2 separate regions of the Homo sapiens genome follow, and region 1 is linked to region 2. A link means that fine-mapping ties the variant in region 2 to the expression of a gene that starts in the linked region. Tissue or cell type: whole blood. Region 2 holds a variant in brackets; the other region holds the start of a gene. Each region is shown on its reference strand, or each on the opposite one.

The links. PIP is the estimated chance that this variant, and not a neighbour inherited with it, causes the effect.
Region 1: it holds the start of SEPTIN4, and the variant in region 2 is the best candidate, but not a certain one, in a credible set for the expression of SEPTIN4 in whole blood (TOPMed, PIP 0.60).

What each region holds. Positions count from the first base shown.
Region 1 is chr17:58,542,781-58,545,693 of GRCh38, reverse strand. SEPTIN4 (septin 4) reads left to right here and starts at 1,366. Exons shown (of 14, transcript NM_001368771.2): 1 at 1,366-2,913. The coding sequence starts at 1,508. It overlaps SEPTIN4-AS1 (SEPTIN4 antisense RNA 1), which reads right to left. Exons shown (of 5, transcript NR_110810.1): 3 at 2,096-2,237; 4 at 1,023-1,158.
Region 2 is chr12:54,327,866-54,330,778 of GRCh38, reverse strand. All of the region lies in intron 1 of COPZ1 (coat protein complex I subunit zeta 1), which reads right to left. Among named protein-coding and RNA genes, the nearest start is that of COPZ1, 4.2 kb to the right of the region's middle. RefSeq lists enhancers at 208-897, 898-1,588. The variant C/T (reference allele first, on the strand shown) is at 1,535.

The sequences.
Region 1 (2,913 bases), not on the chromosome of region 2:
CTGATTGGATAGCTGACAGGATCATGAGAAAGGACATTAACATTTGTTGTGTGACACCCATGTACCAGGCAGTGGTTTCCAGGTGAAGAAACCAAGTCCCAGGGAAGGCAGGTAATTTCTCCTAGGTACACCTGTAGTCATTTATGATGGAAACCAATGATTAACTCCAAATTCCTTCTTTCTTTCTTTCTTTCTTTTTTTTTTTTTTTTTTGAGATGGAGTCTTGCTCTGTCACCCAGCCTGGAGTGCAGTGGCACGATCTCAGCTCACTGCAGCCTCCGCCTCCCAGGTTCCAGCGATTCTCGTGCCTCAGCCTCACGGGTAGCTGGGATTACAGGCACGCACCACCACGCCTGGCTAATATTTGTATTTTTAGTAGAGATGGGGTTTCACCATGTTGGCCAGGCTGGTCTCAAACTCCTGACCTCAGGTGATCCACCCGCCTCAGCCTCCCAAAGTGCTGGGATTACAGGTGTGAGCCACTGCACCCAGCCCAAATCCCTTTTATTTTGTTTTTATTTATATATATTTTTTGAGATGGAGTTTTGCTCTTGTCACCCAGGCTGGAGTAAAGTGGCACAATCTCAGCTCACTGCAACCTCCAACTCCCGGGTTCAAGCGATTCTCCTGCCTCAGCCTCCTGAGTAGCTGGGATTATAGGTGCCTGCCACTATGCCTGGCTAATTTTTTTGTATTTTTAGTAAAGACGGGGTTTTATCATGCTGGCCATGCTGGCCTCAAACTCCTGACCTCAGGCAATCCACCCGCCTCGGTCTCCCAAAGTGCTGGGATTACAGGCGTGAGCCACCGCACATGGCAAATCCCTTTTATTAATAAAACACTAAACTCTCCTGGAGCAAGAATGTGAGAATTTTATTATTTGAGCAACCTGGATTTTTACCCCAGGAGCAATGAAACAATCCATGAGACCTGGAAAAAGCTGAAGCTCTCTTTTTTTTTTTTTTTTTAACTTGTATACAGTACAGTTTCAAACAAAATTGGGGCAACTTTGTACTTCGTACCTTATTAAAACTGGGGCGAACACAGCGTGTTTGGTTTGATCTTGTCTTCATAGGATCTTCTGGCTGATTCCTTCTCTGGATGAGTCCTGAGAATTTCTAGAATCTCGGGAGAGTAAAGGAGGGTCTGGAGCCTTCTCTATGTACAAGGAAATCCCAGTTTTGTTAAAAACTTGCCAAAGGCTTGGTGATATAACTCCAAAGACAAATCCACAGATTCCTTTCAGGTACTTCTTTGGGATTCTGTGAAGAATTGTGGCTGTACACTAGGATGTTTAATAGGAAGGAAGCTCCTTCCTTTATGACATCACCAGACAGAGAGGTAGCTAAGGGGATTATTTGAGACACTCTTAGAACAACAGCCACTTTTGTGGGAGCCCAAGAAACAGCAGCTTTAAAACAGGGTAAATATTCAGGCATCATTAGGATCCTGAATACAAGCCAGCCAGTAAAATACGGGATCTACTCAGAAGGGCACAATCTATCAGATGGTCAAGACAAATAAACCTGGGGCCAAGGTAGCGGTTTCAGCACAGAGAGGGTCTGAGGTTACTACTAACACATCCCCTCAGCAGGGACATGGGTACGTTCTTGCCTCAAGCCATCGAAGTGCTGCAGTCTCCCTGAACCCTTCCCACCGAAGATCAGAAGCTGCACATCCCACCACTCCCCATTCAGCATCAGACTACCCTCGATCTGTCTCCCTCCAGTCAGGACCTGGACACTATGCAGTACCCACTCCTCGGGGACCCGAGACTGGACCAAGAACAGAATCATCCCGCCATTCCTCTCCCCATCTAAAGAGCCAGAAGACTCAGACACTGGCTTCCCATGCTTCAAGCAGACAATGGAAAGTTAGTCCACCCAGAGAGGAAGCAGCACGAAGAGGCAGTGAGAGCAAGTCAGGGCGCGAGGTCGGCCATCATGCTTCATCAATCCCAGATGCCAAATCTACTCATCAGTTGAGTTTTCAAGACCAGAAGAATAACTTACAATCACAAATCTTAGAAGATGACCCACCATCCAAGGTCCAGAACCCCCAAGGAGTCAGAGTTCCCCGTAGGATTTTGTCTTACCCAAAGGATGAAGCAGTACAAACTGAGCCCATCCAAAGAATTACGACTACTAGTGAGATCAGATCTCCAAGGAGTCCCTCTCTCCTAGAGCACGGAAGCAGCTGTGTCTCTGCAGACTATCAGACAGCCCAGAGAAGGGTCCCTGTAGAAGAATCAGAAACAGGTCCTTACGGTCCAATTCCTTCAAAACCCAAGGCCTTGTATAGGAATATGAACTTGGACTCATTGCTCAAACTCTCTGTCCTTAAAGATTCTGATGGTGTACACCGAGTTTCTGCACGGGTAGACCCTGAGTCTCTTCATAAGTATTCTGCCTATCCTGAAACCAAGCCCTCCGCAAAGGTCTTAGTATCATCACAGGTGGAGTCCAACGTGAGGACCCCAATCCGAGGAAACAGCGAGGTTGGCCGCAGGGTCACCATCTCCCCAGGGGTACAGTCAGTAGAGCCAACTCACCATGTGACAGTTCCATCAGTGTCTGAGGGCTCCCACAAGTCATCCATGTTTGTTACTCCAGAGCCCATCTATAAACAGCAAACCCAAAAACCCCCAGAAATTACTTACATGTCCCAAGGACCTACACCCAGGTATCCAGAACTCTCGCAAAAGCCCTCCATCCATGCAGAACTGGAACTGACCCCTAGGCCCTTGCCTCCTCGGTCCTTACCTAGGTACGGACCTGACTCCTCATGGTGGCCCTTGCTGAATCCTGAAGTTGAAACACCCCAAAGCCAGCTGACAACACCGGATTTTGAGCCTAAGTGCTCTCCTTCCCTAGATCTTTTATTGTCCGGTTTTAAAATAGACTCTAGCCCTTT
Region 2 (2,913 bases):
CCACAACCTGTTTTCTTGTCAACATCCAGACTCTAATCAAGCCATGTCAATGGAGTAAAGTAAGAAACAGCAGCAAGTATCTAGATAAAAAAGACCCTAAACCTGCCACTAGGCTCCGTCAAATACCTGGATAATTGCACTCATCCTCTGCCTCCCAAGGCAGACCTGGCTTCTCAAGGGTCTGGTTTTCCTCACATGGAGGCCCCCTCCTCCTCTTCTGACCATGTGACAGCTCCCCTAGATCTTTGATATAATTTATACCTTGCCAGGGACCAACTCTTTCCCACCACTGTGAAGAAGAGGGAAAAAATATATATAAATACGTCGGAAATCTATAACAAGGTCTTCTTGGAGGGCAAGACATGGGGAGAGTTAGAAGCAGCGTCAATTGCTCTTTGGGGGTTTTAGTTCAAGCCGAGGTCTGCTTCCAGCAATCAACCATTAAAACAAGCTGGCCAGAGTAACAGCACAGTTTATTCTGATCATTTAATTTGAAGTGTCAATAAATTAAACTTCAATCAATTAAACTAGGTGTGCAATAACCCAGATGGACACCCCGACACCAACATAATCACAATAAAAATTTTTATTGCTGCCAGGGACCTCACCGGGGGCAGTGCTGGCACTGCTCGCGCCCTAGCTGAGAAATATATCTCCACAGCGCAGGAATGAGGAGATTGCTTCTCCTAACAAAATGGAGGGGGCCAGGCACCAGCAAGGACGCAGCTGGGAGAGGGGCACAGGGGACTGCCAGGAACGAGATGGGAGTGCTTTAGGGGCTTAATGTAATTGATACCTTTGCCCAGAGCAGGGGGAGGGGGGCATTTAGGCCAAGTACCTCTACTGTTAGGGCCAAAGGAATTTAACAAAAGCCCCATTAAGATGATTCAGGAAGCAAAGGCCAAGGAGCAACATCAACCTTTAAAGTCATTGACATATTCTGCATAGTTTCCTCCTCCATACATACTCATATCCTTGTGCACTTTGGATGGCCTGATTTTTTAATGAGGCTTAGAATTTAGGATTTGGTTATGGTTTTAAAATATTAAGGTAAGACAAAGTACAGAATTAGAAGTCTAGTCTGTAAAGCACTGGAGAAGCACTCTGAAAGTGAATCCAGAGAGGATTAGGAAAAATAAAACCTATGAACAAAGATTTAAAGATCTAAACCGATACAGAATTCAGTTTTGTTTGTTTTTTAAGACAGAGTTTCACTTTTTGCCCAGGCTGGAGTGCAATGGCCCTCGGCTCACTGCAACCTCCGCCTCCCAGGTTCAAGCGATTCTCCTGCCTCAGTCTCCCGTGTAGCTGGGGATTACAAGCGCATGCCACCACGCCCAGCTAATTTTTGTATTTTTAGCAGAGACGGGTTTCACCATGTTGGTCAGGCTGGTCTTGAACTCCTGACCTCAGGTGATCCACTCACCTCAGGATTACAGGTGTGAGCCACCGAGCCCGGCCCGAGTAATTCAGCTTTAAAGAAAAAAAGTAAAGCAGGAAGGAGGAAGGGGAAATCCTTATCTTTAAGATTCCA[C/T]AGGTTATTAATGGAGAATGGTGATCTGCAGAGATCCTCTTCATTCACAACTCAAAAAGCGAGAACCAGCAGATACAGCAAGAGAGAAGAAGCCAAGTCCAAAGATGCAGGCTGAGATCACTATTATTAAGCATTGGGAACTAAAAGAGATGAAAGGGTCTCTTTCCTTAGAGCCTAAGGAGACCTGAGAGAGATTAGACAAATCTGCTTGAAAGCTAGAGCTGGATTACTTAATTCAAGAAAGAAATGTGACCATGTGACCCACTGTAAAGTACCTAAAAGAAGGGAACTTACTGTTATTTAGAAATTCCACAATCAATGCAAACTTTGATCAACAGTTCTTCTTGACCCCCTGTAGCTTACCTGTCCCTTTTTCTCGACATCCTGCAGCTATGTATGTACCTTGTAGAGTTAAGGACAGAAGAATATGCTTTGATCAGATTGTCCCTAACCGCATTACATAGGTTTCCCATAACAAAGAACCAGTGTGGTTTTAAAAGCAAAGTCCAGGGTTACCTGATCAAGTTAGCAGGGATCTGTGAATGCAGCCTATTAGGCATAGATTAAAGCAAAAGAATAAGGAAGAAGCAGGCTGAAACAGACTTCACTGAAGAAGCAGAGACAGAGAACTAAGGGAAGAGAAATGTGACAGAGAGACTTTCTTTTTCTTTAACTTTTCTGAGACAGAGCCTTGCTCTGTCACCCAGGCTGGAGTGCAGTGGCGCATCTCGGCTCACCGCGACCTCTGCCTCCCAGGTTCAAGTGATTCTCTTGCCTCAGCTTCCTGAGTAGCTGGGATTACAGGCGTGGCCACGCCCAGCTAAGTTTTGTATTTTTAGCAGAGACCGGGTTTCACCATGTTGGTCAGGCTGGTCTCCAACTCCTGACCTCGTGATCCGCCCACCTCGGCCTCCCAAAGTGCTGGATTTACAGGCGTGAGCCACCGTGCCCGGCCTTTTTTTTTTTTTTGAGATGGAGTCTAACACTGTCGCCTGGGCTGGAGTGCAGTGGCGCGATCTCGGCTCACTGCAACCTCTGCCTCCCTGGCTCAAGTGATTCTCCTGCCTCAGCCTCCTGAGTAGTTGGGACTATAGGCTCGTGCCACCACGCCCAGCTATTTTTTTTTGTATTTTTAGTAGAGACATGGTTTCACCATGTTGGCCAGGCTGGTTTCGAACTCCTGACCTCAAGTGATCCGCCCACCTCAGCCTCCCAAAGTGCTAGGATTACAGGCATGAGCCACTGCACTGCGCCCGACAGAGATACTTTCACATATAACTCCCCCAGCTTACCCACTACACACAGGCCCATTGTTAAAAGGGCTCCCCAATTATTATCTTCCTCATTCCTTTACCTTTAAGCAGGCTCCCTTCTAAACA